3 separate regions of the Homo sapiens genome follow, and regions 2 and 3 are each linked to region 1. Evidence: fine-mapped expression QTL. A gene starts in region 1. Each other region holds a variant in brackets. All regions are shown on one strand. Distances are from middle to middle.

Region 1 (2,670 bases):
GAAGTGCGGTGCTAAAGAACCATCTGACCCAGCGGACTGCAGACAATTCCCAAAGGAAAGTTTTCCCGTCAGGCAAAAACAAAAGCTGCTCACAACACAAAATTACAGAACATCAGAACCAAAAGGAACCTTGGGACTCCTTCATCCTATCCCCTCTCTTTATAGATGAGGAAACCATACAGGATATGTACGCCTGTTTGGACTTTGTACAGTTCTCTGTCCAGCAGGGGTGACTTGGCTGTGGGATTAGGTGACTCCACTGGAGGTCTTCTGTGTATAGAAAAGATCAAGGGTCACAAACACAAATGCCTTCAGGTAGGCAGCAAATGTGTGAAGGCTGGCTGTTACTTAATGGACCAGTGGTGGTGGTGGGATTCAAATTCTTATTAAAAAACAAAAGCAAACAAACAAAGAAAAGCTATGCGATGCCCAAATAAAACCATCTGTGGGCTAGCTGCTGCTGTTGTCCAAAGTTTGTGGCCCCTGGGTTAGACAAAACCTCTGAGCTGTCCTGACAGGTCTGGGAAAACCAAACAAGTCCTTGTCTCCTAAACTACCTGGGACTCAAGAGCTCTGTAGGAAAAAATTTGTACCCTGCACCCAGCTGGGGTTGACATTTACAGACGCCTGTTTTATGAACTGGGGAGATATTCAGTTGAAGCCAGATTGCTGAAAGTGCTGCTGAGAGAAAATCATCAGAAGGGAGGGCCTCTTCCCCACGCCACCCTGGTGGTAGTTCCTCTATGCCTCCGGATTCTGCTAAGCAGTAAAAGCTAAAGGGCAGTGTCATTAAGCTCCTAGGGGATGGGATGCAGTGGCTCACACCTGTAATTCCAGCACTTTGGGAGGCCGAGGCGGGAGGATCGTCTGAGTCCAGGAGTTCAAGCCCAGCCTGGGCAACACAGCAAGACCCCATCTTTGCAAAATAGATAGATAGATAGAGATGTATGAAAGTTACTAGGTCCCATGCTGGCAGGGGAGAGAGTGAGCACCCTGGCCTCCCACAAGCTGCCTCCCACTTCCCTCCGACTCCATCACCGATTTCCCATCAGAGCAGGCTGCTCAGAGTGGCTAAGTAGCTACCAGTTCATTTTCCACACCCTTCCCATTCTCCACGAGCCAGAGCTCCACCTCCCCCCAGAAGCTGTCTTCAACCACCCGGCCTGGGGAGCTCCCCTCAGCACTGGCTCCCCGCCCCGCCTCGCAGCACCTGTTCGGGCCTCGGTCGCGCCGCCGGGTCTTGCAGACGCGAATGTAAACAGAAACACAGTGAAAGGCGTTCGGAGAGCCTCGTGACTGCGGCACGGCGGCGAGCCGGGAACATCAGTGCGTCCAGAGCAAAATGAACGAATGTACGCATGACTCCTGGAGCGACCTTCACGAGGGAAAGCGCGCCCCCCGGCACCCACCCCTAAGCGCCCCAAAATGACCAGCCTTTACACAACCCAGCTCGCAGGCGAAGCTGAGGTCGGAGCTCCAAAAGCGAGGGAGGACAGCCGCTGAAGAAGTCCCGGCTTCCCATAGGCCAGGACGAAGTAGGGGGCGGGCTCATCTTGCAGGAGCGTCCACGTATTGGTGGAGCCGCGGACTTAGAGCTGCGATTCGCTGCGCGAAATTGCCGAAAGCCCTCCCGCGGAGGGAGAAGGGGCGGGAAGAAGGGCGTGGTCAGCGCGGCCGAAGGGCGTGGTTGGCGCTCGGTCCTGCCCTGCGCGTTTTGGGCTGCGGTTGGAGGGCCGCAGTTGCAGTCAGGGTCCGCCAGCTCGGGGCCAGCGCATGGGGCTGCTGAGACCGCTCCGGACGTGCGAAGCGTTCGCGGTGCGGTAGGTAGGCAGTGTCCCGCGTGCGGGTGCTGGTGTCGGGGGTGCCGCGGCGCTGGGGGCGGTGGCCCGGGCTAGATCCGCGCGCGCGCCCGGCCCCCTCCCCCGCGTCTCTTCGGTGCCTGCGGGGCCCTTGCGGTGCGGGCCGTCTGGCCTCGCGTCCCCGCCGGCAAGGGCACAAAGGCTCCCTGGGGGGCGGGGGCGCCTCGTGCCTTCGCCTCCATCTTGCGAGCGGAACGGCGTGTGCTGTGGCGGCCGAGGGGTCGGGGCCGAGGCGGGCGGCTGGGCTTGGGAATGCCCGGGCGCGGCGAGGGAGTGCGCGAGTCCGCGCATCTGGCGGCCGAGCAGCTGCGCCGCTGGTCGGCCTGGGCCCCGGGGGAGGTCACTTTCCCTCAGGCCTCTCCCGGGCGTGGGCTGTTTACCCAGCTCCCCAGTCGGGGCTAATGCAGCTCGGGCCTTTCCCCCTGGAAAGATGGAGACCAGTGATGTCTTCTTATCGCCGCGCCCAGATGCGGAGAGAAAAAATCAAGATGTCTCATTTTTTTTGCCTCGGAGGGCTACCCTTTCTAACTGTCATCACTAGAACAGTTCTCAGCAGCCTGGGGACGAATGTCCAAAACCTGTTCCAGGCCCTTGATGATTAGTAGGTTGGGTTTAGTGTATTGTTTGTAACAAAAATGAGCGGAAGCCTGCCAGGGCAGATTGGACCTCACTGGGAATTCATCAGGACCACGAAGGGAGGTAGCGTTTGTAAATAATCTAACAGTTCTCAGATCTAGGGTATGAAGAGTGTTGTGTTAAAGTGTGTAACAAAGGTTGTTGGGTCAGTTTGCCTTGGGTTTAGTTGAAAGAT
Region 2 (2,500 bases), 37 kb before region 1:
GGTTTTCCAAATATGTTAAAACTTTCAAAGGACGGCAGCACGTCGTTTCATTCACACATTTAGTTTTGCCTCTACTGCTCACTTCCTCCCAATCTGGATGGCTATTTATATAACACAGAGGTGGGAGTAAAAAAAAAAAAAAAATTAGGGAAGGAAGTTCCTCTGGCCTAGACAAAAACCTGTTTCTCAGCTGCACCAACTAACCTCTGCAGAGCCCGCAGAGCCAGCTAGAGGGAGCAGGTACTGTTCTTATGGTTATCTACTTAGTTATTCTTCCAAGCTCACAGAGCCATTTCTGGGTTTTGGCCTAAAAGAAAAAAAAATCATAGTTTACCATTTACTTTTGGGAGGGGAACACTCAAGAGAGGAGATGCACATGTAGAGAAACTAGTTGTTTGTTCTCTCGGGAACGTTTTGCACCGGGAGGCAATGTGCAGTTCTTAAGAAACTTGGAACACGTGAATCCAAGTAAATGACAGAATAGGTAAATGAAGGCAGTCATATTTTAAGTATCTTGGGAGTTGCCAAAGCCTCATGTTGTGACAGAAGTTTTAAAGTGATTCTGTTTTTTCCCTTATTTCAAGAGAAGAAAGCCAGAAACGAAGATGGTGCTAATTGCTCTGTTCTGGGGTCTGAGACAAGACACATGTTAGCCTGCCTCGGACTGTTGTCATGTCTGGCGGTTTGTTTTTCCCATTTCTAGCTCAGCGACCCTTCCCTCTATGATGAAGTGCATTGAAGAGAACAATGGTGTGGACAAGAGGATCAGCAGGTTTATTCTCCCCATCGGGGCCACCGTGAACATGGACGGAGCAGCCATCTTCCAGTGTGTGGCCGCGGTGTTCATTGCGCAACTCAACAACGTAGAGCTCAACGCAGGACAGATTTTCACCATTCTGTAAGTTCCTCATTCTTTCCCTGGCTCAAAACTGAAGGCTTTTCTTGTGATTTCCTTTGAAAAACCAATCTCACCACAACTTGGTGTCTCGCTCATAAAATGAGGACAGTGGGGATTCATTACTTGAAGAGCGTGTGTTGACTCTCAAGGGCGTAGCCAGCAGAGCCTATGGTGGGGCGGTTTTTAGTTTCCAGCCACATTGCAGCTGCATGGTCTGCATTTCTCTGTGTCCACTCCACGCTCTATGTTAATGGCTGGCCCTGCTCTGCCATCCCTTAGAGTGACTGCCACAGCGTCCAGTGTTGGAGCAGCAGGCGTGCCAGCTGGAGGGGTCCTCACCATTGCCATTATCCTGGAGGCCA[T/C]TGGGCTGCCTACTCATGACCTGCCTCTGATCCTGGCTGTGGACTGGATTGTGTAAGTAACAAGTCCTGAGAACACCAAAAAGAGTCTGCACTGAGTTCCCTAGGAGCTTAGCACTGCTGGGCCTGGGCCATGCAGAGAAACTTCAGACACACTCCAGCCTTGTGAAGGAGGCTACAGTGGAGCTAAAAGGGCAAGATTTAGAGCTAGGAAAAATTAAACAATATGAGAGTCACATGCCCCCAAACATCCAGGAATGACCATGAGATGTCATTACCAAGAACTTGCTTATAGCATCCAGTAAAGCAGGGGTCCACAGCTGAGGCCCTCAGCGCAGGCCCAAGGGACACGAGGGTCTATGGAGTTGCTGACTGCATAGGAGTAATAAGTCGATGGAGCAGTGATCCTTTGGGAATGATTGTCCCTGGCCTGGAAGATTCTAAGGAGTGATTTCTGTGAGGGGAGGGAGGATGAACCATGCTGATGTGAGTGACTTGGGCTTGGGCTCAGCAGAGGAGGAGGTAGGGAAGAAGGTGTGATCCAGACCACATCTCTGGGGCTGCTGTGAAGACACAAAACAGTTTCTGTGCATGGATTCCTTGAGTCACATGATACCTTTTGCAGGCATGAATAATATCTATTTTATAGGGAAGGCTGCCTGAGGTACTAAAGTTGAGACAGTAGAGCCTGTGGGTAAGAAAATGAGCCCTGGAGCCCAGGTGCCTGGATTGAAATCCCAGATTTGCCATCTAGTAGTTGTGTAATGTGCACTGTGTGTGCTTTGGTCTGCTCATCTGTAAAATGGGAATGATCATAGCACCCACACCAGGGTTGTGGGGAAGATTGAGCGAGTTAGCACGGGAACAGCACACAGAATAATGAGCACGTGGTAAAACATTCAATTCATGTCAGCAAAGAAAGACACTCCAGACCAGGTTCGTCACAGGCAGGGCCTGGCACTGGGCTCACGGACTGGCCTGCTGCAGGTGGGAATGGTGGTTTTTCCAACTTGAAGGGGCTTCTCAGAGCAATGAGGGTAAAATCTGCAAAAGAGACCTGCATTGCGCAGACACCTCATCAGAGGGAACTCCGTCCCTGAGCTGGCCAGCTGGACAGGACCAGAGCTGACAGAGGCCCCCTCTCCTTCCTCACCCAGCCACCTCCTGTGCGTGGAGAAGAGGCATCAAAGAGGTGCTTGGCCAGGAACAGGGAAACAGGGCACCAAGCCGGCTGCCCAGTGGA
Region 3 (2,841 bases), 23 kb after region 1:
AAGCTTCTGCCTTTTCTTTTTCTGATACGCCTTAAGCAATTTAAGAAAGATATAGATGAACATCAGTCTCTGACGGAGAGTGTCTTACAGAAGGGGGAGATTCTTCTTCAGTGCCTGTTGGAGAACACCCCAGGTGAGATGCTTAAGGTTTTGGATTTAGCCAGAGCTTAATCCCTGTCAGCAGCAGGCCCAGGGACCGCACTATCCCTGGTAAGGAGCTGGTACCACAAGAGCCCCTGCCCACACCCACTGCCCGAGATGCCCCATGCCCCATCTGCCAGCTCCACGCGTCGCTGCCCATCACTGCCCCTACACACCTGCTTAGAGGCAGTCATGGTTATAAAACCAAGCCCATTACAAATTAGGCATTGAGCCTGCAAGAATGACGCTGTCTTTTGCTTCTGCTTTTGTATTTTTCTGGTGGTAGTCTGGGTAGGAATCCTAGTATTAATCCACCATCCTTAGTTTGTGGCTAGGGTATTTAGTGGGTATCCCTTTGGTTCCCCACCTTACCTAGCCCAGGTTGAATTCCTCTCTGATTATCTGCCTTGTGTCCTGCTTTGGGGAAATAGTTGTTTCAGAAAAGGATTGTATTGCTCAAAAGTATCTGAGGACAGTCAGTCTGTCCTCAGGGAACAGATTGAATGAAGAACTGATGAGAGGGGACAGGGTGGCAGTAGTGTGCAAACCAAGCTCAAGCCCCTTTTTGTTTTGTTTTGCTTTTGAGATGGAGTTTCGCTCTTGTTGCCAAGGCTGGAGTGCAGTGGTGCCATCTTGGCTCACCGCAAGTTCACCTGCCTCCCAGGTTCAAGTGATTCTTCTGCCTCAGCCTCCTGAGTAGCTGGGATTACAGGCATGCGCCACCATGCCCGGCTATTTTTTTTGTGTTTTTAGTACAGATGAGGTTTCTCCATGTTGGTCAGGCCTGTCTTGAACTCCCTATCTCAGGTGATTCGCCTGCCTCAGCCTCCCAGAGTGCTGGGATTACAGGCGTGAGCCACTGCACCCAGCCACTTGAGCCCATTTTGTAGGATGGGTTCCCCATTTAGGAAAGTGAAAATCACAGACCTCAGGCATGTATCTAAGCATGCTGGGTGCCAAGGATTTACAGTTTTCATTGTCTTTACAGGACGAGGGCATGGGGGATGAGGATATGATAGGGAGGATGAGCTAAGAGAATGGTAGGGTAAAGCCTTGAACTGATGGCAGCCCCTAATTTCCTGCAAGACTGTAAATCAAGTGCTGACAGCCTGCCTATATTATGCCTCATTTTACATTTTTGAGTGAGATGGGATTTATACTGGAATACAACCGCCGAAGCAAAGCTGGGCAGGTCCCACGGGCTTGAGAGGCAATGAGGAGGCACTTTCCTGACCAGCATGGTGGGCAGGTGCATACCGTGAAGGGTGTACAGCAGGATTTCTCAGCCTTGGCGCTTTTGCCATATTGGCCGCATGATTTTGTGGGGAATTGTCCTATGCATTGCAGGATGTTTAGCAGCACCC[C/A]TGGCCCCAGTAAATCCCTGCTTCCCCCACAGTTGTGACAACCCAAAATGTTTCTACACATTGCTAAGTGTACCCTGGGAAGAAAAATCTCTAGGGTTGAGAGGCATCAGTGGACAGGGACCACTGAATAGTTTTCAGCAGGTAAGTGATTCTCTAGTGTGAATTATATGAGCTCTTTGCAATCCCCTGCCCTTTTAAGGCCTTTGTTTTGGCTCTTCTGGCATTTTCACTAGGGTTCTTAGATTTTTTATTGGGGCAGAAATTCCATGTGCCAAGCTCCTTTGCTGCATGTAATTTACACCAGCATTTTACTGAAGCAGTTGGCACATCAGTGTTCTCCATTTAATCACAGCCCTGTGAGATGGATAGTTGTGGATTTGCCACAGGCCACAGGAGAAGTGGCAGCCTGGCAGAGCCCCTGGGCACTGGCTTTCCGCAGCTTCCCAGTGTCTGGAGGTGCAGAGGCCTGAGCGGCTCCTCTCTTCACAGAGGCCATGTGTAAAAGTAGGCCTCTAGTCCGGACACGGTGGTTCACGCCTGTAATCCCAGCACTTTGGGAGGCCAAGGTGGGCAGATCACCTGAGATCGGGAGTTTGAGACCAGCCTGACCAACATGGAGAAACCCCGTCTCTACTAAAAATACAAAATTAGCTGGGCGTGGTGGGGAGCACCTGTAATCCCAGCCACTCTGGAGGCTGAGGCAGGTGAATCGCTTGAACCCAGGAGGTGGAAGTTGCAGCGAGCTGAGATTGCGCCATTGCACTCCAGCCTGGGCAACAAGAGCGAAATTCCTTCTCAAAAAAAAAAAAGGCCTCTTAAAAGCTTCAGGTTTTTTGACCTTCATTTTAAAATCAATTTAATAATACTTTTCTGTGCTTAGTCCCACTTTGCTCTCTCAAGAGGTTTTTTACTGGCTTTGGGGTTTTCTTTGGTTTTCAGATATGTATCCAGGCTCTTTCAGATTGACACACAGCCCTTCCCCATCCATCTGCTTGAAATAATCAGGAATGTGGCTGTTTCCCCCTTGAGACGTCAGTGTCTGTCTCCAGCGGGTGCAAAACTTAACTTTTCTTCCGCCAGGAGCATGCTGTCAAAAGTCCATAGAGCCAGCCTACAAACATGTTTTGTTCCAGTCCTTCCCAACTTCTTTTATTTGGCCCCAACCAAACATTCTGACAGTCTAAATAAAAGTTCAAAAGCGTCCGTGCGCAGTGGCTCACGCCTGTAATCTCAACACTTTGGGAGGCCAAGCGGGCAGATCACCTGAGGGCAGGAGTTCAAGACCAGCCTGGCCAACATGGCGAAACCCCATCTCTACTAAAAGTAAAAAAATTAG

Evidence for each region.
Region 2: its variant is fine-mapped to the expression of CEP68 in whole blood (TOPMed, PIP above 0.99).
Region 3: its variant is fine-mapped to the expression of CEP68 in blood mononuclear cells (TOPMed, PIP above 0.99).

What each region holds. Positions count from the first base shown.
Region 1 is chr2:65,054,705-65,057,374 of GRCh38, forward strand. It overlaps CEP68 (centrosomal protein 68), which reads left to right and starts at 1,712. Exons shown (of 7, transcript NM_015147.3): 1 at 1,712-1,824. RefSeq lists an enhancer at 1,305-1,544 and silencers at 1,645-1,754, 1,835-2,174.
Region 2 is chr2:65,017,368-65,019,867 of GRCh38, forward strand. SLC1A4 (solute carrier family 1 member 4) reads left to right here. Exons shown (of 8, transcript NM_003038.5): 6 at 704-898; 7 at 1,178-1,312. Among named protein-coding and RNA genes, the nearest start is that of LINC02576, 12 kb to the right of the region's middle. The variant T/C (reference allele first, on the strand shown) is at 1,261.
Region 3 is chr2:65,077,832-65,080,672 of GRCh38, forward strand. It overlaps CEP68 (centrosomal protein 68), which reads left to right. Exons shown (of 7, transcript NM_015147.3): 5 at 37-133. Among named protein-coding and RNA genes, the nearest start is that of CEP68, 23 kb to the left of the region's middle. RefSeq lists an enhancer at 1-78. The variant C/A (reference allele first, on the strand shown) is at 1,506.